2 separate regions of the Homo sapiens genome follow, and region 2 is linked to region 1. Evidence: fine-mapped expression QTL. A gene starts in region 1. The other region holds a variant in brackets. All regions are shown on one strand. Distances are between the middles of the regions.

Region 1 (15,434 bases):
GCCGCATTGTGAATAGTTATATCCTTTGTCCCTTTTAAGCCTTTATTCTTAATAGATATTTCTGCATGTGCATCAATAGGGTGGTTTAATATTTAAATAAGCACACACATAGCTGCCCTGACATTCTAAGGCTAGAAGTCAAAAGTAGAACAAAAACTTCTCACTACCAATCCCTTGCTCTGGCCATCTGAAATCAGTCCCCAAATAAGAAATATACCTGTTTATTAGGTTTTTCAAAGAAAACAGAATTCCCCCTATGCAGAAATCAAAATAAAAAAACTATTATATTACTGTAATTATGTGTTTATATTTCCTCCTAAAAAGATAAAGATGTAAGTTTCAGTTAGCCATAGCTCTTTTTTAAAAAATACAACCTCATCTACACAATAATGACTTTTTTTTTTTTTTTGGAAAGGGCTATCTTTTCCAAATTCTTACACAGAAAAATCCTTACAAAGATGGTGGGATCAACATAGGCTATGTAAGGTGTATCTGTAGCCACAATTCTGCAGTTGTCTACAGCTGTGACTATCAGCTGTGAACTGTAATGCCCACCATGGGAAGTTCAGAAATGCATCCGGGCATTTCTGGTATTCACAGTGGGTTTGGGGAGGTGTATAATGGGGGTTTCAACAGTATCTGTACCGATTTAATCCTTTGAAACATCTAAAGAAGATGTGATAGTTATTAAATCTGGGTTATAGGATCATGGATGTTTATTACATCATTCTCAATTCCTTTCTGTATTTAAAATATTTCATAATAACAATTTTAAAAATGAGTATATATTAGGATACACATGCACGTAAGAGCAGGAAAAGTGCAAAAGACAAACTGAGGGGTGAGGAAAGGAGAAGGGGAGGGAGAGAGAGAGCAAGAGAGACAGAGAGACAGTGCAGAGAAAGAAAGAGAGAGAGTATGACAACAAAGACTGCATGTGCCCAGACTGGGAGCAAAGTGGAGCACACATGAGAAGGAGAAAAGCAAAGGGGAGCAAGGCGAGGGGAGTGGGGTTACAGAGAGGGAGTGGGTGCATAGAGAAAAGGCAAAGAAAGCTCTAGCACGTGGGAAAGAGGGAGAGAGCAACAGTCAGAGAGGGTGAGCTTCTGCAAAGCAGCCATGCTATAGAGTTGTTTTTAGACCAAGTGACTGTGTTTGTGTCTATAAAACATAAAACTCATTTATGAGTTATATGGAGGATACAAACACACACACACAGAGATGCATATGTATATGTGTATACATATAAGTATACATACACACAAATTTCAAACCTGACATTCAGGTATTCTTCCATCATGAAATTAATCCCATCTCATTGTCCTTTCTAAATATAAAAAGTAAATCTCATGAATCCTGGGATTTGACTGTCCCACCTGGTGATCCAGACCTGCAAGGGGTTGATGCAAGTTTTCAGGGCTTCTTCCTCCTGCTCTTTTTCTATATGTGCCCCCAGGTTCTCTTGAGCAATTACCATCATCAGTTCAGTCGTCATGCTAGAGGTGACATCATAGTAAAGCTAAATATTGGGAGAGAAAAAGTCAATATCAGAGAATAGATAACTAGTTGAAATTGGCTATAATGGAAAGTTTTTGTTTAAAGTCAAAAGACAATAAAAAGAGACATGAGAGAATGTCTCAGAAAGCAAGATATTTGAAAAATAAAATAATGTAAGAGAATTATCATTATTAGAACAGATAAGTTAACTTATATACCTGAGCATGCTCCAGGAACTCATTATATCCTCCCAAAAGCAAACCCTTTCCTCCACGATCCAACAGCTCTCTCCAGATGATAGGGGAATTCTTGTGACTCCACTTATTCTTTTCACACACATCTTTTAGCCAATCCTGTTGAATGATATCCCAAGTGAAGTCATATATTAAATCTGCCTGAGAATTCAATTTCATACTTTAGAATTCAAACATTAAAATACTAGGTTGCTTTTAATGTCACTATATACACATAATATAATTTAGATATCTTCAAAGAGTAAAATGTAAATATAGAAAATAGTGATGTTAGTAACAGATTAATTAGATAAGAAAGCATATTCTTCAAATTAATTGACCAAATAAAGGTACTGAAAGTTGCTCTTTTTGCTGAGGAGACCTGGAATCCAAGTGTTTAGCTTAAAGAGAGGTCACATGTTCCAACTCAACTGATTTTTAAAAAAATTCAACTAGTTTTGCCCTTATTCTTTTACACATGCAATATTTCCAGTCTTAGGGGCATATAAAACTTGATACTTTTTTTAAAATCTGTGAGTGTGGTTTATGTAGTTCAGACTAAATTAATAAGCTAAAAGTTATTTGGAGATTTCCGACAATATTTATCAGAAAAAATTTAAATTATCATTATCTGATTTATATAGGCTAGGCCTTCCAATGACAAGATCTGAGTACAGTCAAACAGAAACATTTTTATCAGCAAAGTACATGGCAGCAGTCTTAAAAACCACGTCATTGGAGGCATGGGTAATGAGGCCACCTTACCAATAAAATCCTGGAAACTGATTTCCTTGCTAATATTGAAGATCTGCCTGCCTTTATCTCACTTAAAGCAAACAATGCTGCTATGAGGATTCCAACACGGTCCCTCTAGCCACAGCATAGCCAGACCAGTGAACTACTGGGCCCATGAAGGAAAGAGACATTACCCCAAAAAACCTTCTGCACCCTGCAAAGCATGTTAATGTCCCAGCAGGAGCTGCAAGGGCATGTACAAGACTGGACCCTTACAGTGCTGAATCAAGAGTGGAACATGAAGTTAGACAAGGGAGAATTTATTAGTATGAATCACTTTTCGGCAATTCAAGAGTGTATACCCTGGCAAGGACCTCAGAAGACAGGGACAACATGTTGCCAGACTGGCTCTTAGAAACTTGGAGAGAGTAATTAAATAAAATAGAAATGCCAGACTTCATGGAAGACGGTAGAAGAATGGATCAAAAGACTAGTGATGCCAGGTGTGGTGGCTCACTCCTATAATCCCAGCACTTTGGGAGGCCGAGGCGGGGGGAACATCTGAGGTCAAGAGTTCGAGACAAGCCTGGTCAACATGGTGAAACTCCATCTCTACTAAAAACACAAAATTTAGCCAGGCGTGGTGATGGGTGCCTATAATCCCAGCTACTCAGGAGGCTGAGGCAGGAGAATTGCTTGAACCTGGGAGGCGGAGGTTGCAGTGAGCCGAGATTGCACCATTGCACTCTAGCCTGGGCGACAAGGGCGAAACTCCATCTCAAAACACACACACACAAAAAAAAAACTAGTGAACGTGGTACTATGGAAGGCTAGAAAGCCCGCCATTCAACCATGTTCTCTGGAAGGGATTGGAGGATACAACATGCACCTAAGTGATAAGGAATGCACTGGTGAGAGGGGTCCTGGTGTCACTGAGGAGCCCAGTGTGGCTGTCCGTTCTAGGCCAAGGCTGTTTGTTTTTTTTTTTTTTCTTTATTTAAACTTCTATTTTAAGTTCAGGGGTACAAGTGCAGTTTTGTTACATAGGTAAATTTGTGTCATGGGGGTTTGTTTTACAAATTATTTCATCACCCAGGTATTCAGCCTAGTGCCCGTTAGTTATTTCTCGTGATCTTCTTCCTCCTCCCACCCTCCACCCTCCGATAGGCCCCAGTGTGTGTTGTTTCCCTCCCTGTGTCCACGTGTTCTTATCATTTAGCCCCCACTTCTAAGTGAGAATATGTGGTATTTGGTTTTCTGTTCCTGTATTACTTTGCTAAGGATAATGATCTCCAGCTCCATCCATGTCCCTGCAAAGGACATGATCTCATTCCTTTTCGTGGCTGTGTAGTATTTCATGATGTATATGTACCACATTTTCTTTCTCCAGTCTATCATTGATAGGCATTTGGGTTGATTCCATGTCTTTGCTATTGTGACTAGTGTTGCAATGAACATATGTGTGCATGTGTCTTTATAAAAGAATGATTTATATTTTCAGGGGTATATACACAGTAATGGGATTTTTGGGTTGAATGTTATTTCTATCTTTCTATGCTTCCACCAATAGCCTATAAGTGTTCCTTTTTCTCCACAACCTCGCCAGCATCTGTTATTTTTTGACTTTTAAATAATAGTCATTCTGACGGGTATGAGATGGAATCTTATTGTGGTTTTGATTTGCATTTCTCTAATAACCTGTAATGTTGAGCATTTTTTCATATGATTGTAGCCAAGGCTGTTAAAGGACATGCTGCCACACACCTGAACTCCCTGGCAATTGAGATGATAAAATCCTGAAACAATAGAGGCCAGTGGGCAGTGCCAACCAGACAACATTTATTGTAACAGAAGCACTACCAACCCAGCAGATGAGATAACTTAGCTGAAGACCAGACCAGCAGAGAGTGAGGGAAATCTATAATGGATGGTAGAGAAGAGAGGGAGAGAAAAGGTGATGACTGTCAGTTTGGCCCTGAAACTATGAGCAGTGGAGACTATAGTTCATTTGACTATCCTTTCTCTTATCAAGTTTACCCAGGGAAAGATGGCAACCAGAATCCTGGAGGAGCTGTTCCAAGATGGTGTGAACTGATTATAGGGAGCATGTGGATCCAAAAGGCACAACAGGTGAACTGTAGCCAGTGCTGTCATGTACACTCCAGGTTCCCCCTTCACAAATGAGGCACTCACTCTCCCAGGCACCTGGTGTATTAGAGGCTGATAACTTAAAGTCTGACTCCATTCTCTCTCTAGGAATTGACTTCAGCCAAAGCAAATTGCCTTGCCTAAGGTTAAGTTCCTTCCCAGGGGCAGCTGATATCCGATGGCTGGTTGAGGAGGGAGCACAAAAGCTCAGCTACCTTGCCTCAGTTTGGAATAATTCTGAAAGGCCATCAAGAGTTCACTGTGGGATCCGCTGAGCCCTCTGTTGCAGCTATGTCAAACTTCAACTTCTCCCTTTACCCAATCCTGCCACCCTCATTCCGTTTCAGGATGCTGTTCCCAAGACCACTTCCCAGTAAAGCCCCTTCACCAAAATCTACATCTCAAAGTCTGTTTCTGGGGAAACAGAGTCCCAAAGAAGGGTATCCCAAATAAGTCATTGGAAATCAATACCAAGGAGAATGAAAAGTTAACAAGTGCAGTGTAAGCTACCTGGATTCTTCAGGGGGTGCAGTCAAACTTATTCTACTTATTGATTAGGGTCTCATTTGTTCTACTAGGTATTAGGGAAAAAACATAAATATTATTTTGAGACTGGTAAGTAGGGACTTGTTTTACTAGTATTCAAATATCACTAGCACATGAACAGTCATTCCTAGAAGCCAGTCTAATACACCAGTTAATATTTAATCAAATTAAAACACATTTTGTGCATGAGTGAGTTCAACAAACTATAAAGGCTTCTTACCTCCCAAACCTCAGGACGTTGTGTGATTTTATGTATCCGAAAATCAGGAAGATTCTTTTGTAAATAGTCTGCCACAAGTTCTGTTTTAGCATAATATGGACAATCTGCTCTACCTAAAAGAGTTCAAATTAGCAATGTTTTCTTTCATCATGCAGAAATTATTATGTAGTTCTAAGTATTTGCTATGTAATTACAGAATTAGTCATAGTTATGATATAATTTGATAACATAAAGTTGCAGTATAAACTGCTATTACATAAACTTCTGATGTTTATTAGATTAATACAAATAAAATAAACTTCATAGGAGGTCAGAATCTTAAGTAACAAAATGTGGAAAGAAAAAAAACCCTACTGAATATTTATTCTTTTCTAGTAATATGCTAGACCTCACTTCCTCTAGGAGGCTGCTAACTACTACTAATTCAGCATGAATTAGTACTGATAATGAACTACTCACTAATGGCCACCAAAAGGTAAAGTTTGAAGTGAGGAGTGGTGGTAAAGTCACTTTTGGATTTGATGTGTGTCAGGAAGTTGTGGGGGTGGGAAAGAAGAATCTGGGATAACTTCTATTTTCCGGCTTGGGCAGATGATGCTGACCTTAACTAGAGAAAAATCATGAATGAGAAATTTAACTTTAGTCAAGTGCAGTTGGAGATACTTGTAGTGTGTCTAAGTGGATATGATCAGCAAGTAGCTGGATATATATGTATATGTATATGTACATGTATATGTATATGTATACATATATATGGGGTGCAGGTGCCATGTAAGGGTTTCAGACACACAATTTGTAGCCATCAACACCCAGGAAGTTAAAGCCACTACAACAGATGGAATTGGGCATCTGATAGAGCAGGAGGGATGGGGAAAAATGCAGAGCCCTCTCTGTAGCATTCTTCCTCAGTTAAGATAACTTAACTCCTAAGTTACCAACCTGTCTGAAGCTACCCCTGTCTATCAGCCACCCTGTCTAGTTCAAATCTATGGTTCATCTCTTCAAACCACTTTCTGGTCCATGTCTTAAATTATCTTTCTCCACTATCCTTTTGGGAAATGAGCCTGATAAAAGCCCCTTATCCTGGATGAACTCAATTACTTGCCTTTTCTGTAGCTGGGTCCTACCTGCTAGCCACCACTACAGAAACATTGTAGAACCAAGCGGAGGGCACCTTTAAAATTCATGGTCACCAGCTTTAATTGGCCCTCAACCCTGCGTGGAGATCCCTCTGTTTCCCTTATCAGCACTCTCTTCTGTTCTCCTCATTACTATTCCAGTCTTTTTCCTCTTCCTCCAAATCTTTTCCTTCTCCCCAACATTCCTCTGCATTATCAGAACACAACAGACAACTTTGCTTTTTACTTTACAAAAACCAACCCAAACAAAACAAAATGGCATTAGTTTGGAAAATCTCCAACCTCGTCCATCACATCTACATGCCTGTCTGTACTTGGACTCATCCTTTCCTCCTTTCTTCATTTCAATGGAAGAGGAGTCCTACCTCCTGTCTAATCTAATCCCACCACTTATGCTCTGAATCCCATCCTCATCTGCCTTCATAGGAACCTTGCTTAGTTAATTATCCTCTCTTTCTAGAGTCTTGTATCTGTTTCTAATAGTCCCTTTCTGTCATATTTAAATATACTCATTACATTATGTTTCTCCTGTCCTAAGAGACAAAAAACTCATCTCCCCCTCTAGCTATTGCCTTTCGTATGTCCTTTTTGATCAAAATATCTTGAAAGAGTTCCCTATATTTGCCATCCTCAGTTCTTCACTTCCATTTATTTCTCACCCACTGCAATGTAGCAGACCCCACAATTCTCTTGAAGGTCACTGAAGACTTCCATGCCACTAAATCCAGCAGATACTTTCCGATCCTTTTCTTGTTGACCCTTGGCAGCATTTGCCACCACTGCCCCCTTCCAGGCTTTTGAAACACTGCTATAGTGGGGGCATTCTCCCAGTTCTCCTATTCTATGGTCACTCCTTTCTATCCTTTGTAGGTTTCCATTCCTTTATCAACCCATTAAAAGGTATCATTCTGAGAAGCATCTTGTCTTTATAACTTACATATTCTTTTTGGCCAATCTGCTTCATTCCCTTGGCTTCAAGTAGCAATCTATATTTCCAGCTCAGATCTCCTTATCTAGATGCCTACACCCTCCTGTATTTTCCCATCTCCTTCAAAATGTCTCATAGACACTCAGAAGGTCTATGATGTATTTTGTCACCATTCCCCTACTAAATGTGCTTAGTCGCTTATATTTATTATGTCCATCTCCCTAATTATCTAAGAGTAGTAAGAGTATCCAGAGTATTAAACCTACTCATCCGCTTTTTTTTTTTTTTCAGTGACTCCTAATCTCTGCAATTATTCAAACCTCTGCTTGGGAACAATGTTTAACTCCTTTTTCTCCCTTATCTGCCCTCCTCCAGTCAATTAGACATCCAGTTCTATAGATTCTGCCTCCCTAATATCTCTCCAATCCATTCACTTCTCTCCATCTCCATTGTTTGCCACTCTAGGCCAGGTCACAATCAACTCCCTCCTGGACTATAGCACTAGTCTCCTAACTGGTTTCTTGGTATCCAGTCTTTTTGTCCCACACTATAGCCGTAACATTCAGATAAAATTCAGATTTGATTAGGCCCTCCTCCCCTTCTAAAAACCTTTCATGTACTCTGGATAAAGTCTAAACTACTGAATGTGGCTCAAAAGAATCTACATTATCTAACTCTAGCCTCACCTTATGAAATTCTCTTCCTTGTACTATTTGCTTCAGTCCTAATAAACTTATTTCAATTTTATACTTATTTTATATTCTCAATTGTCACCAAACTAGTTCTCCTTGCTCTAACCCCACTCCCAGTTACCCATGCCTAAATTGCTCCCCTCCTTTCTACCTCTTCTCTGTTAGGTAATTCATTATCATCTTTCAGGTATCTGCTTAAAATCTCTCCCTCTGGGAAACCCTTACCTGATTAAGTAAGGTCCCTGCTATCGTTCCTATAGAACCCTGCCCTGTCAGTGTCATACATGCAACATTCTCTGTGTGTTTTCCACTGACTTCCCACCATGTGGTTAGTCAGTGTTCAAAAATATTCTTCTGGGCCAGGTGTGGTGGTGCATGCCTGTAATCTTGGCACTTTGGGAGGTCAAGGTGGGCAAATCACTTGAGCGTAGGAGTTCAAGACCAGCGTGGGCAACATGACAAAACCCCATCTCTACAAAAATACAAAAATTAGCTGGGCATGCTGGTGTATGCCTGTAGTCCCAGCTACTTGGGAGGCTGAGGTGGGAGGATCGCTTGAGCCCAGGAGGTCAAAGCTGCTGTGAGCCACGATTGCACCACTGCAATCCAGCCTGGGTGACAAAGTGAGAGCCTGTCTCAAAAAAAAAAAAAAATCTCCTGTGGATGGTAGATGTCAATTGTGTTCAATGCATCAAAGAGATCAAATAAGTCAAAGACTAAACAGCTTCTATAAAAGTCAGTGGTGACTTTGGTGACAGCAGTTTCTGTCAGGAAGCAGAAGTAGAAGCCTTCTTCCAAGACTGATTGGAAGGCAGAACTGGAGATGGAAGAGCAGTCTACTCTTTTAAGAAACTTTACGAGGAGAGGAGGTAGGTACCATGGATTGTTGTAATAAAAGCCTTCTCAGTTGAGTCCTTGCTGTCAACCAGCACTTTCAATCATTCTCTCCGTTGCTGCCAAGACAGGCTTCCTAAAATGCAAACTCATTAAGACTACTCTCCTGCTTAAAATTTTTCTATAATTCCTCATTGCTTTCAGGATACAGTTCAAACACCTTTGCTTGACCTACATGAAATGCAAGGACCTGGCTCCTGCTCCTGTTGTAGCCCCAGGTCCTGTCACGCCCCACATATCCAGATCTTCTGTTAGGCCAGGAAGCTTCCTGCCTCTCTGCTTTTATTTGGAATAGCCTCCTCAGCTCACACCTTCACAACTCAGCTCCTGTAATACCTTCCCCAGCCAGTTCCTTGTGTCCACCTCTCCCTCATCCCCCAAACCCAGATTAGGAGTCTACGCTCCCAGAGGCCTGTGCAGGTCTCCTTCATCGCGTTAATCACACCGTATCAAAAGTACATGTTCTGTGCCCCATGAGACTGAAAGCTCCTCTAAGGCAGGGATATGTTTCCCTCCATTGCATCCCCAGTGTCCCACAATGCTTGGCGCACCGTCACGGTCCAGTAAAAAACTTTGAATAAATCTATAGCAAAGCATGGAGCGGTCCGTATAGAGGCTGCCAAGCCGAGCGGCCATGGGAGGTGAGCTGTTGTCGGCGTTTTGAGCAATCTGCGGGCGGACGCGGGGATCACTCACCCGCGATGACGAATTTGGCCATGGTCGAGAGAGACTCAGAGGCAGGGACCGCGGCTTCGCGGTTTCCTGGCAACCACGCAGCCAAGGGCAAGGCGCAGGCGCACTACAAAGTCTGGCGCCCAGCAGAGGTTAGGTGTTTAAAGTTAGGACCTGAATGGGTTACGTTGCGATACACGATCAAACATCGCCCTTATAAGCTCTGTGGTATCCCCGAGCCCCACTCCTGTATGCAGGGAAATTAGTCATTCTCCTTGGTAAACTTTCTTCAAGTAAGTCCTTCAGCTACAGCCGCGAACATATGCTTTTTGACCTTTGAGGGAATCCGTAAGATCTCGTGAGAAGCGCAGCTTCTCGGGGAAGCTGTCATGGCTGCTCCTGTACGTAGTCACGGTCTTGTGCTCTAAGGTGAGTGGAGGACGAGCTTGGGCTTAGCGGCAGCCCGTATCACATCCTAGACTTTTTACTTCGAGGAGAAGAGTCTCACGAGTTGTCCTGGAAGTAAGTTTAAAGGAGGTGGGTTAATGCTGGGCGGCCCAGCTGCGGAAGGACAGGCTCTTGAAGTTGGTTCTGGGGTCTGGTGAGGCTGGCTGGTTGTATAAGATCTTCCTCTTAAGCGCAGGCCACGTGCAGACATCGCTTTCGTTTTCTGCTTCTTCCACTGAGCCGTTCTACCTGCCCAGGTCCCTATTCTTGATGGTCTGGGTTCGGCCGTTGCTAAATCGTCATGTTGAAAATGATCTATCAGCCGGGCGCGGTGACTCACGCCTTGGGAGGCCGAGGCGGGTGGATTACCTGAGGTCAGGAGTTCAGGACCAGCCTGGCCAACATGGTGAAACTCCGTCTTTACAAAAAATACAAAAATTAGCCGGGCGTGGTGGCATACGCCTGTAATCCCAGCTACTTGGGAGGCTGAGACAGGAGAATTGCTTGAACCTGGGAGGTGGAGGTTGCAGTGAGCCAAGATCGCGCCACTGCACTCTAGCCTGGGGGACATAGCAAGACTTTGTCTCAAAAAAAAAAAAAAAAAAAAAAAAAACAGAGAAGAGAAAAGAAAATGATCTATCAATGCTAATCCCCTAATTTTCACCGAGGACATTTCCATAACAATGCCAACAAAAGTCTCTCCTACAGAGAAAGCTTTATGGAACGCTTTTGCACCAGAAAAATCTCATTAATACAATGACTACTTCCAAAGTGACCTGGCTTCTTTGAAACTGGACACATTGTGGTAGATTGGAGGGAGCCCACATTGGTAAAAAAAACTTTTACTGTTTTATGTAAATGTTTAATGGCTCCATAGGTTCCCCATTTTCTCTTCTGTTAAATGCATTTCATTTCTTTAAGTAAAAGTTTTGTTTTAATTTTTATTCTTTTCATTACTTCTTCCCCTACAGGAAAACGACAGCACGTGTTCTTTTTCACTAGTAGAAGTGACGTTGGTTTCATGTTGACAACTTTGAAGCCATTTGGAAGTGTTTCAGTGGAGAGCAAAATGAATAACAAAGCGGGCTCCTTTTTCTGGAACCTTAGACAATTCAGTACATTAGTTTCAACAAGCAGAACTATGAGGCTATGTTGTTTGGGACTTTGCAAACCAAAAATAGTTCATTCAAACTGGAACATTTTAAATAACTTTCATAACAGAATGCAATCAACTGATATCATTAGATATCTCTTTCAGGATGCATTCATTTTTAAATCAGATGTTGGCTTTCAAACAAAGGGCATAAGCACTCTAACAGCCCTTAGAATTGAAAGACTACTTTATGCTAAAAGACTGTTTTTTGACTCAAAGCAGTCTCTTGTCCCTGTTGATAAATCTGATGATGAATTGAAGAAAGTAAACCTTAATCATGAAGTCTCCAATGAAGATGTTCTTACCAAGGAAACAAAACCAAACCGTATCAGCAGTAGAAAACTGTCTGAGGAATGTAATTCCCTGAGTGATGTGTTAGATGCATTTTCAAAAGCGCCCACATTTCCTAGTAGCAACTATTTCACAGCAATGTGGACAATTGCCAAAAGACTGTCTGATGACCAGAAGCGCTTTGAAAAACGACTGATGTTTAGCCACCCTGCATTTAATCAGCTCTGTGAACATATGATGAGAGAAGCCAAGATCATGCAGTATAAGTACCTACTGTTCAGTCTTCACGCCATAGTGAAGCTTGGAATCCCTCAGAACACTATTTTGGTGCAGACTTTGCTGAGGGTGACCCAGGTAAAATAAAAAGGAGATTTAAACATGCATTTACTTGATTTAGAATATTTTGAAAGAATGAAGGGATATAGATATGTAGCCTTCTTAAAAGAGACTATCAAATGGAATGGTAGTTTCCTTTATATTTATTTCTGCATATATATTATATGATTTAGAGGCCTTAAGTTAGCTATTTTCTTCCTTTTGCTATGGAAATTTATGAAAGCCTTCCACATTTACCATCCCCAGGGTTGAGTAGTGGTGAAGAAGCTAAAGTGAGGAGAGATGCAAGATATACAAAGAAAGCCTGGGTAGTTGAAGAAGGAGAGAAGGGAAGGGGAAGGAAGAGAATTTAGTCCATGGTAGAATTGGAATTCAGGCCCAGTAGATGATACCTAAACTGATGAGCAGAATGATAGTGAAGGGGATGGTGTTTCAAGTAGAGAGGATTGCATGCCCTACTGTTCCCAGAGGAAAAGTTTGGCAAATTTGAAGAGCTGAAAGTAGTTTGGTGTAGCTGAAGCACAGAATGATGGAGTTGTATGTTTGAGTGGGTGGGAACAAGTTTTGTACATGGCGATCAAAGGAGAGGAGTGAGGGGCAAGAGGCTTAGGGGCAGAACAAGAGGCCAGAAAAATAGGAACCAAATCATAAAGAGCCTCTTACGGCTAGCTAAGGAGTATGCATTTATCCTGTAGGCAATGGGAATCCGTTGAAGAATTTTAAGCAATGGGTTGACGTGCTCAAATTTGTATTTTAGATCACTGAATGAGTGGAAGATGTATTGGAAGAAGGTTAAAATTGGATGGAGGGAGCCATTTTTAGTCTAAAGCAAGAATGTCAGTGTCCTGTTTAATGTCACTGAAATGGTGCCAAATGTAAGGAAGGAAGGATTAGCTTGTTAATCATTTATGTTTTAAGAGTGTACACTTCTGACGTATAAACTCAGTGATAATGAAGTAATTTCTTAGCCAGGTGTGGTGGCTCACACCTGTAATCCCAGCACTTTGGGAGGCCAAGGCAGGAGGATCTCTTGAGCCCAGGAGTTTGCGACCAGCCTGGGCAACAAAGGGAGACTCCATCTCTACAAAAAATACAAAAATTAGCTGGGTGTGATGTACTTGCCTGTGGTCCCAGCTACTTGGGAGGCTGAGGTGGGAATATCACTTGAGCCTGGGAGGTCGAAGCTGCCGTGAGCCATGATCGTGCCACTGCACTCCAGCCTGGGTGACAGAGCCAGACCCTGTCTGAAAATAATAATAATAATTTTTTAAAAGACAGGAATTCCTTGGGGATAATCTGGCATATATCCTGTCTTGCTATAGAATTCAATAATTGGGTTCATAGCTATGGGAAAGTTTTTAACTTTTTACATTACTGTGATTTCCATATGTCCTTAAGGAATAACTAATTTTTATTTAGTGTATGTGTGTGTATTTGTTTAAACCACAGAATATCCCTGTTTATTTGTAGGCTGTGTATTAGTTCCTATGTAGTTATTTAAAAGTGACTAATAAATCACCTTACCTGGTCAGTGATGCTCTTACTAGATTTTGGACAGATATTTGCATCGGGATGACATCTGTGTTGGTGAGGTATGAGTAGTAGATTTTTGTAGTCAAAACATCTGTATGGATGATGGTGTCTCACTGACCTGTTGGAATAATGTAAAGACATTTTAGAGGTGAAAGGACAGTGTGCCATCAATGAATTTGCCCTTCAAACACATAGACAAGTGGTCTTTTCTTTCATAGTAGATATGGATGGAATGCTGTAAAATTGTTAAGGAAACCCTTTCATAGGAAAGAAACCTTTTTTTTCTTCTAACCATAACCATTTCTTATTATTACCTGGTTCTGACTTAAGACTTTGTGATTCATTGGTTATGTAATTTTAGCAAAAGAGCTTCTCTCTCTTCAGGCTAAGTTTCCTCAGATGTGATTTTTTGTGAGGTTTATAGACTAGTGATTAAACTGTAGAGTACTGCTAGTTAAGCTGTGTTGTTACTATTCACTTTCCAGATTATGCCCACTATTTCTGGAATCAAACTTAGTACCCTAAGTAAAGGGACCTGAAAGAAGAATCTGTGGGGTGTAGGCTTCCCTTGAGACCCAGATAGCAGTGGTAGAATGTGGCAGGAGATGTGAATCAGAAGACTCACAAGTAAAGTTTCAGCTTGATACCCAGGAAAGGATCTAGGGAAATTGTAAAGGCACAACCATTTAAGGATCTTTAGAGATGGGCTAGTTACCTTCTGTACTTCAGTAGTTCTTATATTCCTGCACTTTAACTGTTTTTGCCTTTGTAATGACCTTGAATTCCAAGAAGAGGTAAAAATAATGTTTAATAAAAGTTGTTTCAGAAGCAGTGGAATATAATAAATATCAAATGTGTTTTCAGTGATAATGGTGAAGGTAAAAAAGTGTTGATGCATAAAAGGATGTGTATCAGTCAGCTGGAAAATTCAGTAAGTATGACTTTTTATTTCCCAAAGATGCTGTTTATTGTGGACTGACTGTAGGAATTGTTGGTTTGATACTCAATCGTTTTATTCAGTACATCAGTTCAGTGGTTTTGCTTGGGTAAGATAGTTTACTATGGGCTCATCACCTGTAGTGTTTTTGTAATTATATTTCAATAGGAACGTATCAATGAGTGTGATGAGATATGCCTTTCAGTTTTGTCAACTGTTTTAGAGGCAATGGAACCATGCAAGAATGTTCATGTTCTACGAACGGGATTCAGGTGAGAACTCTCTTATGCTTTCTTCATGTGGTTTTCTTTGTTCCTCATATATCTGGAATAAAAAAATTGAGATGAAAACTAAACTCCTTTCTTGAGGGGAGGAGGGGTTGGGGAGGCTTTGTTGGTAGTTACAGTCTTTCATACCTTATTAAGCTTAAAATCCTGACTCTGGATGACATAGGCTGGAAATACTTCTCTTAGGGTCCATAATAACAAAGATGTGAGTAACATTGAAATCTAAATTAATTTATTTTAAAACATAGTACTGGCCAGGCGCAGTGACTCATGCCTGTAATCCCAGCACTTTGGGAGGCCGAGGCAGGCGGATCACGAGGTCGGGAGATCGAGACCATGGTGAAAGCCCGTCTCTACTAAAAATACAAAAATTAGCCGGGTGTGGTGGTGGGTGCCTGTAGTCCCAGCTGCTTGGGAGGCTGAGGCAGGAGAATGGCGTGAACCCAGGAGGCAGAGCTTGCAGTGAGCTGAGATCGCGCCACTGCACTCCAGCCTGGGCAACAGAGCGAGACTCTGTCTCAAAAAAAAAAAAAAAAAATAGTACTGATGCGGGGTAGGAGAGAATTGATATGTATATTTAATTCAGAATAGTTATTCGGGGACTATGTGAGGGTTGACGTTGACCCAGCTTGAAAAGGGATTTATAAAATTGATATAAATGATCTAATGTCATAGATTAGTGAGAGTAAAACTTAACTCCCTTTGACATTGACTATGCATAGGATATGTTACTATAATCTCCTGAC
Region 2 (15,434 bases), 23 kb before region 1:
TTGAAGGTAGAGCTATCAGGACTTCCTGTGATTGAGCATTGAGTGTAAAAGAAAAGGAAGGTAAGGATGACTCCAAGAATTTTGGTTTGAGTGAACGGAAAGATAAAATTCCTTTTTATTGAGATTTTGTTTGAGATTGAGGAGCAGGTGGGAGATATAAGAATTAAGAGGTAAGTTTGAAACATGTTAATTCATTTGCCTATTAGCCATTTTAAGTGCAAATTGCAAGTAGGATAGGGGAATCTTAAGTTTGGAAGAGGTGACTGGCCTGGAGATATAAATTAGGGGATTACTTGTATATAGATGGAATATAGAATCATAGGACTGGATGGGGTCATGAGTAGCTACAGATGGCAATCAAGGACAGATCCCTGGTGTACTCCAATATTATAAGGGTATAAGAGGATAAATCAGCAAAGGAGACTGAGAAATAGTAAAGCACTTCATGGGGATGAAGTAGGAAGAAAACCATGAAAGTCTCATGCCCTAAAAGGCAGGTGAAGTAAGTGTATCAGAGACAAGGAAATGATTGATTATGTTGTTATGGGCTGAATGTTTGCTCCCCCTACCCAAACTAGTATTTCAAAAACTAATACCCAATGTGATGCTGTCTTAGTTAGCTTTGTGTTGCTATAAAGGAATACCTGAGGCTAGGTAGTTTATAAAGAAAAGAGGTTTATTTGGCTCACAATTCTGCTGGCTGGAAGGTTCAAGATTGGACATCTGGTGAGGGCCCCAGGCAGCTTCTACTCATGGTGGAAGGCAAAAGGGGACTGGCATATGTAAAGATCACATGGTGAGAGAGGAAGCAAGAGAGGCGGGGAGGTGCCAGACAATTTTCAACAATCAGCTCTTGCAGGAACTAAGAGCAAGAGAACTCACTCACCCCAAGGGAGGGCATTAATCTATTCATGAGGGATCCACCCCTATGACCCCAACACTTATTAGGCTCCACATCCAACATTAGGACCAAATTTTAACATAAGGTTTAGTTGGGATGAACGTCCAAACCATAGCAGGCTTTAGGAGGTGGGGCCTTTGGGAGGTGATTAGGTCATGAGGGTAGAGGCCTCATGAATAGGATTAGTGTCCTTATAAAAGATGCATCTGAGAGCTGCCTAGCCCCTTCCACCATGTGGAGACACAGTGAAAAGGTGCTGTCTATGAACCAAGAAATATGTTCTTACCTAACACTGAATCTGCTGGCACCTTGATCTTGGACTTCCAAGTCTCAGATCAAGAATGGTGATAAATAATCAAGAATTCCCAGAATGGTGATAAATAAATCTCTGTTGCTTCTAAGCTACTGGTCAATGGTACTTTGTTATAGCAGCACGAAGGGACTAAGACATATGTCAAATGCTACTGATAGGTCAAGTCAGCATGAGGACTGAGGGCTTATCATGGGATTTTGCAAACATGGTGGTAATTTTAGGGGCCATAGATGAAAACTTAATTTTAATGGCATTGTTTAAGTATGACTTATGTGTGTTGATCTTGAGCAAGACACACTAGGGTTTGTGGCTGCTTTCCCAGAGATGGGTAGCACACCTACAAAGGAGGAGACTGCCAGGACTCTGCAAAACCTTTGCTATGGCCTCTTTGTTTAGAAATCATGCTTCTTTGTACCAATAAACTGAGAGACTTGTGATTAGATAGCTCTGTGGGCTCACTTTTTCTGCCCAGAAGAAATTAATATGAGGGGTAGAACAGCTGCTCACTGTTGGGAGAGTCACCAGTTTGCTTCCAGAAACTCAGCTACAAGCTTGGGTGACCTTTCTGTGTCCTCTGCAGACCGAGTAAGCTTTCAGCTCTGAGCCAGGACCATTTTAGAGTTAAAGATGTTAGTTTTAAGGCCAGCAAAGGAGCAAATGGAAGTTACACATTACTTCACAGTTGCATCTGGTAGTGTGTAGATGGAGGAATAGCTCTTTATCCTATTTCTGTCTCTTGGAGTCTCATAATGTTCATCTCCCTGAAATAAAAAGAAATAAGTAATGGTTCGCCAAGAGAGGAAAGGCCACATCACTGTGTAAGATCTATCAAGGCTTCAGTGAGATGAAGTTTGAGGACATAGTGTAGGGCAGTGGTTGTCAAAGTATGGTCCCCAGATCAGTAGCATCAGCATCACCTGGGAACTTGTTAGAAATGCAAATTCTCAGGCCCTACCTAAGATTTACTGAGTCACAAACTCTGGAGATAGTCCCCAGCAATTTTTTTTTTTGTTGGTTTTCTTTTTTTTTTTTTTTTTTTTGAGACAGAGTCTTGCTCTGTCATCCAGGCTACAGTGCAGTGGCACGATCTTGGCTCACTGTAGCCTCTGCTTCCCGGGTTCAAGCTATTCTCCAGCCTCAGCCTCTGGAGTAGCTGGGACCACAGGCAGGTGCCACCATGCCTGGCTAATTTTTGTATTTTTAGTGGAGAGGGAGTTTCACCATGTTGGCCAGGCTGGTCTCAAACTCCTGACTTCAAGTGATCTGCCCACCTCAGCCTCCCAAGGAGCTGGGATAACAGGCATAAGCCACCATGCCTGGCCCTCAGCAATCTATTTTAACAAGTGATTCTGATTCATGCTAATGTCAAAAATCATGGTCTGGAATTGAAGTAAGTTGGTGGCATTTACTGACTGGATTTAGGGAAGATAAAACAAATATAACAGTCAGTACAGATTTTGAGCCTAGCTGAGTCGGAAAAGTCAGTTTGTCTAGGGGCTGAGTGTGGTTGTTCATGCTTGTAGTCCCAGCTACTCAGGAGGCTGAAGCAGGAGGATCACTTGAGTCCAGAAGTTCAAGACCAGCCTGGGTAACATAGCAAGACCCCATCTCTACAAAAATAAAAATGAAATTAAAAATTAGCTGGGTGTGGTGGCATGTTCCTGTAGTCCCAGCTATTTGAGAGGCTGAGGTGGGAAGATCGCTTGAGCCCAGGAATTCTAGGTTGTACTGAGCCATAATTGTGCCTCTTCACTCTGGGCTGGGTACAGAGCGAGAACTTGTCTCTAAAAAACAAATGATCTAAATATATTTCTTATTAATTCCCTTAAAATGAAAAATTGAAAGATATTTCTCTAGTAAGTTAAATAGCTGTTAGCTATAAGTATATATAGCCACATATTTAAGTATGCAGCCATTGTCTATAAGTAATAGAACCCATCAATAACATGCACTTAAAACATAGAGTTATTTATTGTTTATTAGACAGAAATTCTGGAGTTGATCCAGGGTTGGTTCAGAGGCTCTTTGAAGCCATCAAGCCCTCAGGATTAGGCACCATGCTTTTTCTGTCTTTCTTTACTGCTACCCTCCTATGCTGGTGATGTCTCTTCTCATGGCTACAAAATGGTTGCTGAAGCTGTGAGCATTACATCCCAGTAGGACAGCATTTTAAGCAGGAAGGAAGTAGGTGGGAGCCAAAGTGCTTTCTCCTTACATACCATTTATTCTCTCTGTCTCATGCAGGCCTCCAGAAGACTTATCTATCAGTGTCCAAAATGGGCTGTATGCCTACCCCTAGGCCAATCACTGGCAAATGGGACTAAATTAGGTATCTCACTATTTATTGGGCCCATCAACCATCCCAACAAAATCAGAGTTCTGTTGGTCATGAGAATTAAGCAGGGCTGTAGGGAGGGCAACTAATAGTGCTTGCTATAGTTACAAAGATTTATAGACACTTAACTCATATTCCAGTGACCAATTAATTACTTTATACACATAATGCCTTTCTCCAAACAATACTCTAATTTTTCTACAGAATATTCCTCTCTCATGGCTTTACCATGATAGCTTTAACAACATAGAGAAACTATTTATAATAACCTCACATTAAAGTTACTTTTAATGGGGAAATCAGACTTGAGATTTCCCAAGTTGGTCTATTATATATAACAGGCTACCATGAGAACCAGTGCATCAGTCGAAAAAATAAAGAAAAAAAAAAAACTCCCTGTGTATTAGTCCATTTTCATGCTGCTGATAAAGACATACCCGAGGCTGGGCAATTTACAAAAGAAAGAGGTTTAATGGACTCACAGTTCCACAGGGTGGGGAGGCCTCTCAATCATGGTGGATGGCAAGGAGGAACAAGTCACATCTTATGTGGATGGCGGCAAGCAAAGAGAGAGGTTGTGCAGGCAAACTCCCATTTTTAAAGCCATCAGATCTTGTGAGACTTGTTCACTATTGTGAGAACAGCATGGAAAAGACCCACCCCCATGTTTCAGTTATCTCCCACTGGGTCCCTCCCACAACACGTGGGAATTATGGGAGCTACAAGATGAAATTTGGGTAGGGACAGAAAGCCAAACCACATCACCCTGAAAAATACTTTTGAAGTGGCATCGTAATTATTTCTAAATAAATAGCAAACACTTAACACTTTCCTCCCAGTGTAATTCCATATATTAGTTTGGGACAAATGTGTGGTAGTAGATATGGTGACTAAAATCAATCCATTCTATTCTTCTATAGGAGTATATTCTAGAGCATTCTTGTCATCCTATGGTGGTCCAAACATATGGCAGTTCATATTCACGCTGGAAGTAGAGACTTCTGGGGATGGGGACTAATATGTCCCAAAAGGGGACAAAACTCTGTCTAGGTCTCCTCTAGCCCTTTCCTAGTTGTCCACCAATTGGAGAAGAAGCTTATTATCTCATTGTTCACAACTTGACACTCATGGGAAGAAAATCACTAAGGGGCAGGGCCACTACTTTGAAAGGTGATGTGTTCGTGGTTGTGTTCTTTGGTCTAGCTTTTCTATCTGGTTATGGGTAATAAGTGAGTCACATAACTGATTCAAGGGGTATGGAGCGGGAAATTTAGCTTGGGCTTCTTGGTCTGAATCACAGTTTCTAATCTCGCTTAGTTTTATCATAAGAAGCCCTGTATGTTGAGGAGCAATCGCCATGTGCCCAGCTCTGCGTAAAGCACCATTTGATTTCCCATCCAGCTCTTGTTCTCTGTGGTCACATTCCTTGGGTTGAGGACCCTACAAGGTCAGGCAATGGTATTGGTAGGATTAGGGCACAAAATCAATGTCCTTAACACGGATATTAAGCTTTCTTCACAATAACATCAAATGAAGTGCTGACTTTGGAAACAAGCAGAAGTCAGTCATGGGTTTGAAATTACCCATTGCATTATGATGGTGCAGAAGCAATGCAGAAGATGCAGCTACAATTTCCCTGAATTTTCAGAAAGTGATTTGTATCTTAAGAGCTATTAAACATACAGAGAAAGCACAGATATCAGCAGTTCTTCACATGACTCCTGGGCTTTCAAAAGTTCCTAATTGGCATTGGTAAAGGGCCTTATTAGCTGGAAAATATCTCAGCATACTGGTTTGGCTATTACTGCTTTAATAAAAGACTGTAATTTTTACTTAAACCATGCAATTATATAGTAAAAATATTAGGCTTTTCTTTCAAAATTCATTTTATTCAGGCCATATCTCTTGTCAAGGAGCAGAAACCTATTCAATCTAAGCTTTAAAAAAGTGTGATTTATTGTACAGACCTTTATACAAAGCACACTCAAGGAAAAATGGTACAGAGGCAGGTCTTATGAAGGTGGTGAACCCAACCAGCTCTGAAGAGCTCACAGGCACATAGTTCACCACCATTAACCTGACCCAGACACCAACTTACTCACTGGTCTCAGTTCAATTTTTTTTTGAGAGACAGAGAGAAAATATGATTGGTTCTCCTTGAGTGAAGTACATCTGTTTGGCCTAATTAGTTGAGGCCAAGGTGATGAGGACATTTGAGCAAACATGGCCACTTAGGTGCAGGTCTTAGGTATGGCTGATGGAAGGAAGCAGGTTCTCTCAGAAGATGTATGGGCAGATGCAATGACTGACAACTCTATTTTAATGTAATATAAAAAATAGCATTTGACACCAAAATAGTTCTAAGAAAATGCAATTATTATGAAACAAACATGAGTGGATACAAGTAATGCAAAATGACGGAACTCTGACCTCTGTGCTGTCACAGTGATTTAATTGCCTTGCATGGTATTATCTAAGACTGACATAAATCTTTCAAATTATTCTTCCTTAAATATAGACATTCATATAAATTCTTTCTATGTTTATTGTGCTATCAAGTAATTATATATTTCATCCAATTTGATCTGTTAGGATTCCACGGTTTTGCCTTCAAATTCTGTAAAAGGAAAAGAATGAAAAGACATAACTATTTCCAAAATATGTTAGTAGCATATGTTATTATTAGCTTTTTTGTTTGCTGGATTCCTGTATTCATGATTCAATAGCTGAGAAAGTGCATGTGTGAGAGTGATTCTATGGGGAAATAAAGCCATGAGATCATAGTTAGGTATTTTCATATAGCAAAACTAATTGTGGCCTCTTCCCTGGCCACAAGCTATTTTTATGTGCTCTCTCCTGTCACCTTGCTTTTCATTCCAAATTATGTATGCAGCTATGTTGTCAGCTCCATTTCTGCTCGACTTTGCTGCTCCTCTATGTACCAATTCTAATTCCCCCTGATTAGCCCCATTCCTAAGTCCATCATACCATACATTTCAGAATGAAAGGTGCATGAAATTTTGTTCATTTTATTGGACATTTAAATAAAAGGGTGGGGGCTTGGGTGAATATCCTGATTGGTCAACCACAAAGAAATCTACGTCAGCTTTGTTTTCAACTCAGTTATATACTTGGGAAATCTGGACATGCAGATTACTTGTGTCAATTTCCTTACTTATTCATCTTGAGGGAAGGATTTAATGAAGGATTTAAGGATTTGGTTGCAAAAGTGGGAAGCAGGCCAGGCACGGTGGCTCACGCCTGTAATTCTAGCACTTTGGAAGGCCAAAGTGGATGGTCACTTGGGCCCAGGAGTTTGAGACCAGCCTGGGAAACATTGTGAGACCCTAGATCTACAAAAAAAATTAAAAATTAGTTGGGAGTGGTGATGCATGCCTGTGGTCCCAGCTACTTCAGGGGCTGAGTTGGGAGGGGCACAAATCTAGGAGGCTGAGGTTGCAGTGAGCTGTAACCGCACCACTGCACTTCAGCCTGGGCAACAGAGCAGACCTTGTCTTAAAAAAAAAAAGTGGGACGCTGGGATCCAGGAGAGTAAGCAACCAAGGCTGGGTCCCTGGGGAATGTGGGAAGTGGGGAGGGTTTGACAAGAATAGTATTGCAAGGAAATTTGATCCTCTATTACCCAGTTCCACTTGTAGAATAAGAAAATACTAGTTAATGTTTTGTCTACCACCTACCATTTAGGAACTCAAGACTCTGTGGCTTTTCAAAGGTGGTTTGAGGAATCTGATTTGGAAACTCTGCTGCTGCAAATAGAGTTAAAAGAATAGTTTTTAGTATGTAAAGCGCAATAATTTTTGCAGTTATTTCCATTTTCTTCTATCTTGTTCCTTCCACTCTGAGGTTTCTCTGAATGCATTGCTCTCCTAGGAGTTACAAGATGCTAGACCACTGTTATATAAAGTCTCAACCATTGATGATGACTTATCTATGTCCTGAGTGGACAATATGAACAAGCAGATGTTCAGTCAACTGCTCAGTATAGCATCTTTCTACCAACATCCCTATGAAGCCTCCTTCCCTGGCCCCCATAAACCACTGGGCAACTTCTCAATGATTGCTAGCTTCCTTCTAAATAGATAGTTTCAGATGAAGCCATAAAAATGGAAACAGACTAAATTATTATTTTTTTGATATATGGTTTGTATAGGCAGCTTTAGAAAAAATACAATTCTCTACATAAATATTTGCAAGCACTCACATTATATGTATACAGTTGACCCCTGAACAATGTGGAGGTTACGGACACCATTCCTCTGTGTGATCAGTAATCTACACGTAACTTTTGACTCCCCCAAAACTTAACTAATAGCCCACTGTTGACCAGAAGTCTTGCCAATAACAGTTGATTAACATATATTTTGTATGTTATATGTATCACATACTGCATTCTAACAATAAAGTGAGCTAGAGAAAAGAAAATGTTATTAAGAAAATCATAAGGAAGAGAAAATATATTTACTATTCATTAAGTGGAAATGGATCATCATAAGGTTCTTTATCCTCATTTTCTTTATGTTGACTAGGCTGGGGAGGAGCAGGAGGAAGAGGAGGCATTGGTCTTGCTGTCTTAGGGATGGCAGAGGTGGAAGAAAATCTGCATAAGTGGACCTG[C/T]ACAGTTCAAACCCATGCTGTTCAAGGGTCAACAGCATATGTGTGTGTATTTATGTAATACATTATAAATTATATATATGATGAGATATATATACACATAATGAGACAAAAAATCCCAGATTTTCCCTGTTAAGGAGAATTCTAACTTGGTTCTCTCGGTCTTTTCCTCTCACCTGTGTTCTGAGGAAGATGCTATCTTGCCCTATTGGTTATTTTGGGCTTCATAATAGAGAATTGAGAAGAAAAGGGAAAGGTGAGAAGCAAGAGATACAAGGGACTGGAGCTGAAGTTAGAGTATTTTGGGAGAGTTTGAGGTGAATATGACAAGGAAGCAGTTTTAGTGCTTTTTAAAAAAAAGTTGACATTTTTATGCCCATTTCAAAGTGTTTGTGAAGCATATGAAAAGAAGCAGTTATTTAAAACTTGCTTTGGTCGCTAGACCATAACATTATTCTCTAACAACTGGACAATATGAGTCACGACTATTAGCAATATAGACATTGTTTATAACCCCACTGACTTACCATCTGACATAGCTAGATTTTTTTCTTCATCAGGGACCAGATCTTTATGTCCTGAAATCAAAATTAAATAAAACATGCTGGATTTAGAATATAACCAACAACCTAACTAGGTCATGAGATGTTCTGAGTCAATGTTTTTCAAACTTCAGTGACTATGACCCACAATAAAAGACACATTTTACATTATAGTCCAATGTGTACATTTGTGTACATATTAATGAAACAAAAAAATACATGAAATAATACTTATCTTTTTCTAATTGTGATGGTTAATACCGAGTGCCAACTTGATTGGATTGAAGGATGCAAAGTATTGATCCTGGGTGTGTCTGTGAGGGTGTTGCCAAAGGAAATTAACATTTGAGTCAGTGGGCTGGGGAAGACAGACCCACCCTTAATCTGGTGGGCACAATCTAATCAGCTGCCAGCAAATATAAAGCAGGAAGAAAAATGTGAAAAGGTGAGAATTGCCTAGCCTCCTAGCCTACATTTTTCTCCCATGCTGGATGCTTCCTGCCCTCAAACATTGGACTCCAAGTTTTTCAATTTTGAGACTCAGACTGGCTCTCCTTGCTCCTCAAGCTTGCAGACAGCCCATTGTGGGACCCTGTGATTGTGTAACTTAATACTCAATAAATTCCCCTTTATTTATACATAAGTATCCTATTAGTTCTGTCCCTCTACGGAACCTTGACTATACAGATTTTGGTACCAGGAGTGGTTCTAGAGAAACAAAATATTAAGGATGGAGTTCTTTTGTTGGTTTTCGGGTTTCTGGAGTTGGCTGCTTAGTATGATTCGACCTCCAAATGCTAAGGACCTAAGGACTCTACTTTTAATAGTATGGAGAACACTGATAGTCCTTGGCATGAACTGTTTAATGAGTTATGCAAAATAAATGAATTTGACACTCCTGATTCACTGCCCATGAGAGGCAGGGAGTTTAGTGACTCTATACATAATACCTTTGACCATATGTGGTGAACAAAGGAACATAATGAAGCTGGTTAGCTGCTCCTAAGTTCAGTGGACAAAGTGATGAAAGAAAATGATGAACTCAGAGATTCTGTCTCCTGGCAGATACTGAGCCTCAAATCTGCAAAGATTGCCCTGAGTGAGTCTTATCTCCTGTAGAGAAAGAGCTGAAATTGTGGAAAAACAGACACAAGCTCTTATTATGTGAGTGGTTGAACTGCAACGAAAAGTGTATGCACAGCCTTGCCAGGTGTCTCCTGTTAAAGTGAGGGCATTAATTGGAAAAGAATGGGATGCTGCAACTTGGAATGGAGACGTGTGGGAGAACCCTGATGAAGCTGGGGACACTGAGTTTGTAAACTCTGATGAACCTTTTTTGCCAGATGGAACAGCTTCCCCATACCCAGTAGTGGCAACATCCCCTCCCTGACCCATGCTGTCATCAGCCTTTCCACCTTTGTCTGAGGAGATAAACCCTGTGCTGCCTGAGGCAAGAGTGACGGCCTCCCCTGAGGCAGTTGCCAGGGAAAATGTTGATTCTCCTCAGTAGCCACCCCTAACACCCTTGTTTGCTTCTAGACCTATAACTAGACTAAAGTCTTGGTGGGCCTCTAGAGGTGAGGTTGAGAGTATGACCCATGAAGAAGTGTGCTACACTCAAAAAGAGCTGCTTGATGTCTCTATTTTTTTTTTTTTTTTTTTTTTTGAGACAGAGTCTCATTCTGTCATCCAGGCTGGAGTGCAGTGGTGCAATCTCAGCTCAAGCTCCACCTCCTGGGTTCACGTCATTCTCCTGCCTCAGCCTCCCAAGTAGCTGGGACTACAGGTGCCTGCCACCATGCCTGGCTAATTTTGTTTTTGTATTTTTAGTAGAGACAGGGTTTCACCATGTTAGCCAGGATGGTCTCGATCTCCTGACTTTGTGATCTGCCCACCTCGGCCTCCCAAAGTGCTGGGATTACAGGTGTGAGCCACCACGCCCAGCCGATGTCTCTAATTTATATAAACAGAAATCTGGAGAACAGGTATGGGAATGGATATTAAGGGTATGGGATAATAGTTGAAGGAACACAGAGTTGGATCAGGCTGAATTTATTGACTTGGGCCTACTAAGTAGGGACTTGGCGTTTAATGTTGCAGCTCAGGAAGCTTTCTACTCTGGTCTCATTTCTGCCCTCTCCATTGCACAAAATTGCTCTCATTAAAGTCACAAATGACCTTTGTCATACATCCATTGGGTATTTTTCAGGTATCATTTTATCTGACACACCAGTAGCATCTGACAGTGTAGAACAGTCCTTGTTCTTGAAACACCCTCTGCCTTCAGGTCTTTTACATCATCAGATTCCAGGGACTTATCCTGACTCTCTGACCACCCCTTTCTCATGGTCCTCTGTCAGTTGCTCCTGTTCTACTTAACCATGACAGGCTAAGTTCCTCCAGGCTTTTTTCTCTTACCTTCTCTCTAGACAATCTCCACCATACTGATAGCTTCATTTCTATTTATGAGGCAACAACTCCCCATTTGGCAACTGTAGTCCAGATCTTTCTGAGCTCCAGGAAGTATGCAGTTCTCCATGTGACATTTCCATTTTAGATATCACACAGGTATTTCAGAATCAAAATGTAAGAAATGAAACTCATGCTTTTTCTAATCTGGCACCATGCTTCTTCCTCTTCCATCCACAGGCGTGCATGCACACACACACCCCTCCCACATTCTCATATTTTCTCTCTCTCTCTCATTCTTTTACCATTTTCCCCTTATCAATAGTAAATCTGCCCAGTTGTTCAGCCAGAAGAACCCTGGGATTCACCAAAGCCAATCAGATTCATCAGCAATTCTTGATATTTCCACATCCTAAATATCTCTCAAATTTCTACTGCCTCTGGTCTTGGCTGTATGCACTCCCCCTCAATACCAGTCTTTCTGCAAACAGCCTTGCCTTATTCCAGGATGTTTTTCAAACTAATCCCACAACTGACCAGGTTCTCTCCATCTAGAAATCTTCTGTAGCTCTCACATCTACTCCTCATGGCTGTATCTCTCAGCTCCATCTCTTCTGGCTTTGGCCACATGAGCTTTTCCACAGTTTTTCCAAACAAGTTGATATGTACTTTCCTGCTTCAGATTCTTCCCTTCTATCCGCAGGCATGAGCTCTGACAGCACAGCAGCCAACATTTACTCCTCCCACGCACCACAGTTGCAGTCATCTATATAATGTGTGGCCAGCCTCTTGATGGACTGCAGGTTCCCAGAGGGCAAGATCAGGTCTATCTCATTCACCTCTGTATTTCCAGCTCCTAGCACTGGCTTATAGTTGGTACTGCACACACATTAGCAGAAGGAAGGAATATTGGGCTCCAAAAGACACTTGACTAAAGCCCTTTGCATAAATAAATTGATTTATTTCTACATGTATATATCCATACCTAAGATGAGATCATCTTTAAGGCAAAGAAAAGATGTCAGCCCTCCCCTATTTCTTATGAGTGGAGAAAATACCAATAAGAAAAATAAGCTTCTTGAAATTTGTTGGCTTTTAATAAAGTTATCTAAAAATAAATCTGGTGTTGTGAGTTGAATTGTGTTTCCAAAAAGATATGCTGAAGTTGGCCAGGCATGGTGGCTCATGCCTGTAATCTCATCACTTTGGGAGGCTGAGGTGGGTGGATCACGAGGTCAGCAGTTTGAGACCAGCCCGGCCAACATAGTGAAACCTCGTCTCTACTAAAAATACAAAAATTAGCCAGGCATGGTGGTGTGCACCTGTAGTTCCAGCTAATCAGGAGGCTGAGACAGGAGAATCGCTCGTACCTGGGAGGCGGGGCTTGTGGTGAGCCGAGATGGCACCACTGCACTTCAGTCTGGGCAACAGAGCAAGACTCTGTCTAAATAAATAAATAAATAAATAAATAAAATATATATATATATGTTGAAGTCCTAACGCCTGGTACCTATGAATGTGATCTTATGGGAAATGGAGTCTTGGTGGATATAATCAATTTAAGATGGGTTCAGACTGGTTTAGGGCAGGTCTTGAATGCAATGACTGGTATCCTTAGAGAGAAAGAGAGACTTAGAAACACAGACACACACAGAGGAAAGATGGACATGTGAAGAGGGAAGCACAGGTTGGAGTGATGCAGCAACAAGCCAGGAATGCAAGCAGTGCAACCCAAAGCTAGAAAAAGCAAGAAGGAATTCTTTCTCAAGCCTTCAGAGAGAGTGTGGCCCTGCTGATACCTCACATCAGGTCTTCTAGTCTCCTGAGCTGTGAACAAGTAAATTTCTGTTGTTTTTAAGCCATCCACTTTGTGGTAATTTGTTATGGTAGTCCTAGGAAATTAATAAATATGTTACCTACAACATTTATAAGATCATAGTGTTCATAAGTTGTGTTTTCTTTAACATTCTTATGAGATGTTTTATTTCAAAGGACACATTGAACTTAACAGTTTATTTTGTCATTAGTTTAGAAATGACAAAATATAAATGAGAGTTATTCATATTAACAGTGATTCAGTTATAACAAATATTTTAATACTCTTTTAATAGCAGTCCAATAAAACATCACGTCTAAGAGCTTACCTGATTGGTATGGCTGAAAATGTATCTTGTCTCCAAGTGCAACAAGTTTCTCCTGTTGAAATTTTATAATCACAGAATTAAATGACCACAATTCCTAACTTAATTCTTCTTTTTTTTTTTTTTTTTTTTGAGACAGAGTTTCACTCTTGTTGCCCAGGCTGGAGTGCAGTGGCGCAATCTCAGCTCACCACAACCTCTCCCTTCTTGGTTCAAGCGATTCTCCTGCCTCAGCCTCCCGAGTAGCTGGGATTATAGGCATGTGCCACCATGCCCAGCTAATTTTTCTATTTTTAATAGAGACAGGGTTTCTCCATGTTGGTCAGGCTGGTCGCAAACTCCCGACCTCAGGTGATCCACCCACCTCGACCTCCCAAAGTATTACAGGCATGAGCCACTGCACCCGGCAACTTAACTATTCTTTAATAGAAAAACACCTTGATTCTTCATTTTTAAATAACGAACAAATATTTTTAACATACCAGAAATTGTATAACTAAATGAGTAGTGTTCCTTCACTGATTTTTTTCAAACTTTTATTATCTCATTATTTTTAAGAATTAAAAAAAAATTTGAATCCATAGAAAAACCAATGTATGCCTTGGCCTAGGAGAATCAGTTTAAGGTCATTATCAAGGTCAGTCCCCTTGCATCTATTCTGACATTACCTGAATTAGATCACTTGTCATTCGGGTCATTATTTGTTCACTTATTTCAACATCTTTGAGATCTGTAAGAACCACCCAAGTTCCATTCTCAAATTTCACAGGCATAGAAAAGACGATCCCTTTCGGAATACCAAACTGGCCTGCAGTGAGCAAACACAAAGCAAAGCAATGCAGCAGAACTTAGAAACATGCACCTTTTCTGTTAAGCATTGTAGAAAATGACAGACATAGTATAGGATTTTTAATGATAATGATGGAATTAAATTTCTCGGAATTCTTCTCCAAAGAGGACTGAAACACTCCCTCTAGAAGGATTGACTGAGCGACTATCCAAGTTCTAACAATTCTGCCATCTGTATTTATCTGACATCCAGAGGCTAATGCAGTCTTTCTCTTTTGAACCCTGTCTGTATTCTTTTTGTCTGTCTGCATGGCTTTTCCCTGGACCCCTATGCAGCCCATGAGCCTAAGTCATTTGTCCATCTGGCCTTCCACTCTTCTCACCTGCTACAGCACTCACACAGCCAGAGTATGAAGAATTGGGAAGGGAAAGGAGGGGAGGCAGGAAATTTGGTTATTCCTTTGCAGCCCCCAGTTTGCCATGTGTTTTGGTGTGCGTTTGCTTCATGGGGGATGATTTCCTTTACATATTTCTATGTCTTAAGCAGAAGCCATCCTTCATTTAATAACACATTTAATTTCTTTAAGATATACAGAAATACTTATATTTGGATGTGCTCTAAATAAAAAGATTGACCATATTTATTACTAACTGAGCACCATTCAGACAAAATTGTCCCCGTTTCTGGTGCCTCGATCACATAAGAAAATTATTTCTGCCATACTAGACAACAAAAATATCACCAGGGCAAAAAAACAAACAACAACAACAACAACAACAAAACATTGAGGACATTCGAGAAACCAAGATCTAAAAGACTTTTCCTTAGAGGGCTTCCCAGGTCCTCAAGTAATGCTGTATTTTGTTTAATCTGTGAAGAGCTAGCCTTATGGGCAGACAAGGTCTGAGGGTTTACCTATTTGGTATGGTTTCAGAGAGACAGATAATGATCATTTACCCTCCTCCCCCAAGTACTGCATTGTTTATTTTTGAATACAATTCCTACAGAGATTAATTAAACTTTCTTTCTACAAATAAAGGTAAGGTTTTAAGTGCCTATTTCCCTAAGGAGATAATTTGCTGATCTGAATTCACATTATGGCAATGTTCATGCACCTTAACTTCAATTGAACAAGATTGATTGAGTGTCTACCATATAAAATGCTTCTCCTGTGAAGAAGCAAAGAGGTGGCCCAGAAAAAGCCTTTGCCCTCAGGGTGCCACAAGGAAGGGGACAATGCAACTAATCATACTATCAAAAACAGGCACACTATAATATTCTCCGTGATAGGCGAACAAAATGCTATGTGGGGATACGGAGGAGAGACAGAGATTAATTCTGACATGGGGGATTTGGGGAGATTTCCTTAAC

Alleles and levels. Alleles are on the strand shown, and positions count from the first base shown. SD is a standard deviation of normalised expression in the study named.
As copies of T replace C in region 2, the expression in thyroid of the gene that starts at base 9,807 in region 1 goes up (moderate effect, 0.75 SD a copy in GTEx).

What was found. PIP is the estimated chance that this variant, and not a neighbour inherited with it, causes the effect.
Region 2: its variant is fine-mapped to the expression of MDH1B in thyroid (GTEx, PIP 0.98).

The regions. Positions count from the first base shown.
Region 1 is chr2:206,755,522-206,770,955 of GRCh38, forward strand. MDH1B (malate dehydrogenase 1B) reads right to left here and starts at 9,807. Exons shown (of 12, transcript NM_001039845.3): 1 at 9,729-9,807; 2 at 5,380-5,492; 3 at 1,716-1,850; 4 at 1,377-1,519. The coding sequence starts at 9,750. FASTKD2 (FAST kinase domains 2) reads left to right here and starts at 10,085. Exons shown (of 12, transcript NM_001136193.2): 1 at 10,085-10,226; 2 at 11,123-11,949; 3 at 14,570-14,673. The coding sequence starts at 11,173. RefSeq lists enhancers at 9,586-9,725, 9,976-10,355, 14,178-15,377.
Region 2 is chr2:206,732,346-206,747,779 of GRCh38, forward strand. MDH1B (malate dehydrogenase 1B) reads right to left here. Exons shown (of 12, transcript NM_001039845.3): 8 at 13,942-14,081; 9 at 13,277-13,328; 10 at 8,709-8,759; 11 at 7,248-7,316; 12 at 5,418-6,166. The coding sequence ends at 6,138. Among named protein-coding and RNA genes, the nearest start is that of DYTN, 22 kb to the left of the region's middle. The variant C/T (reference allele first, on the strand shown) is at 8,185.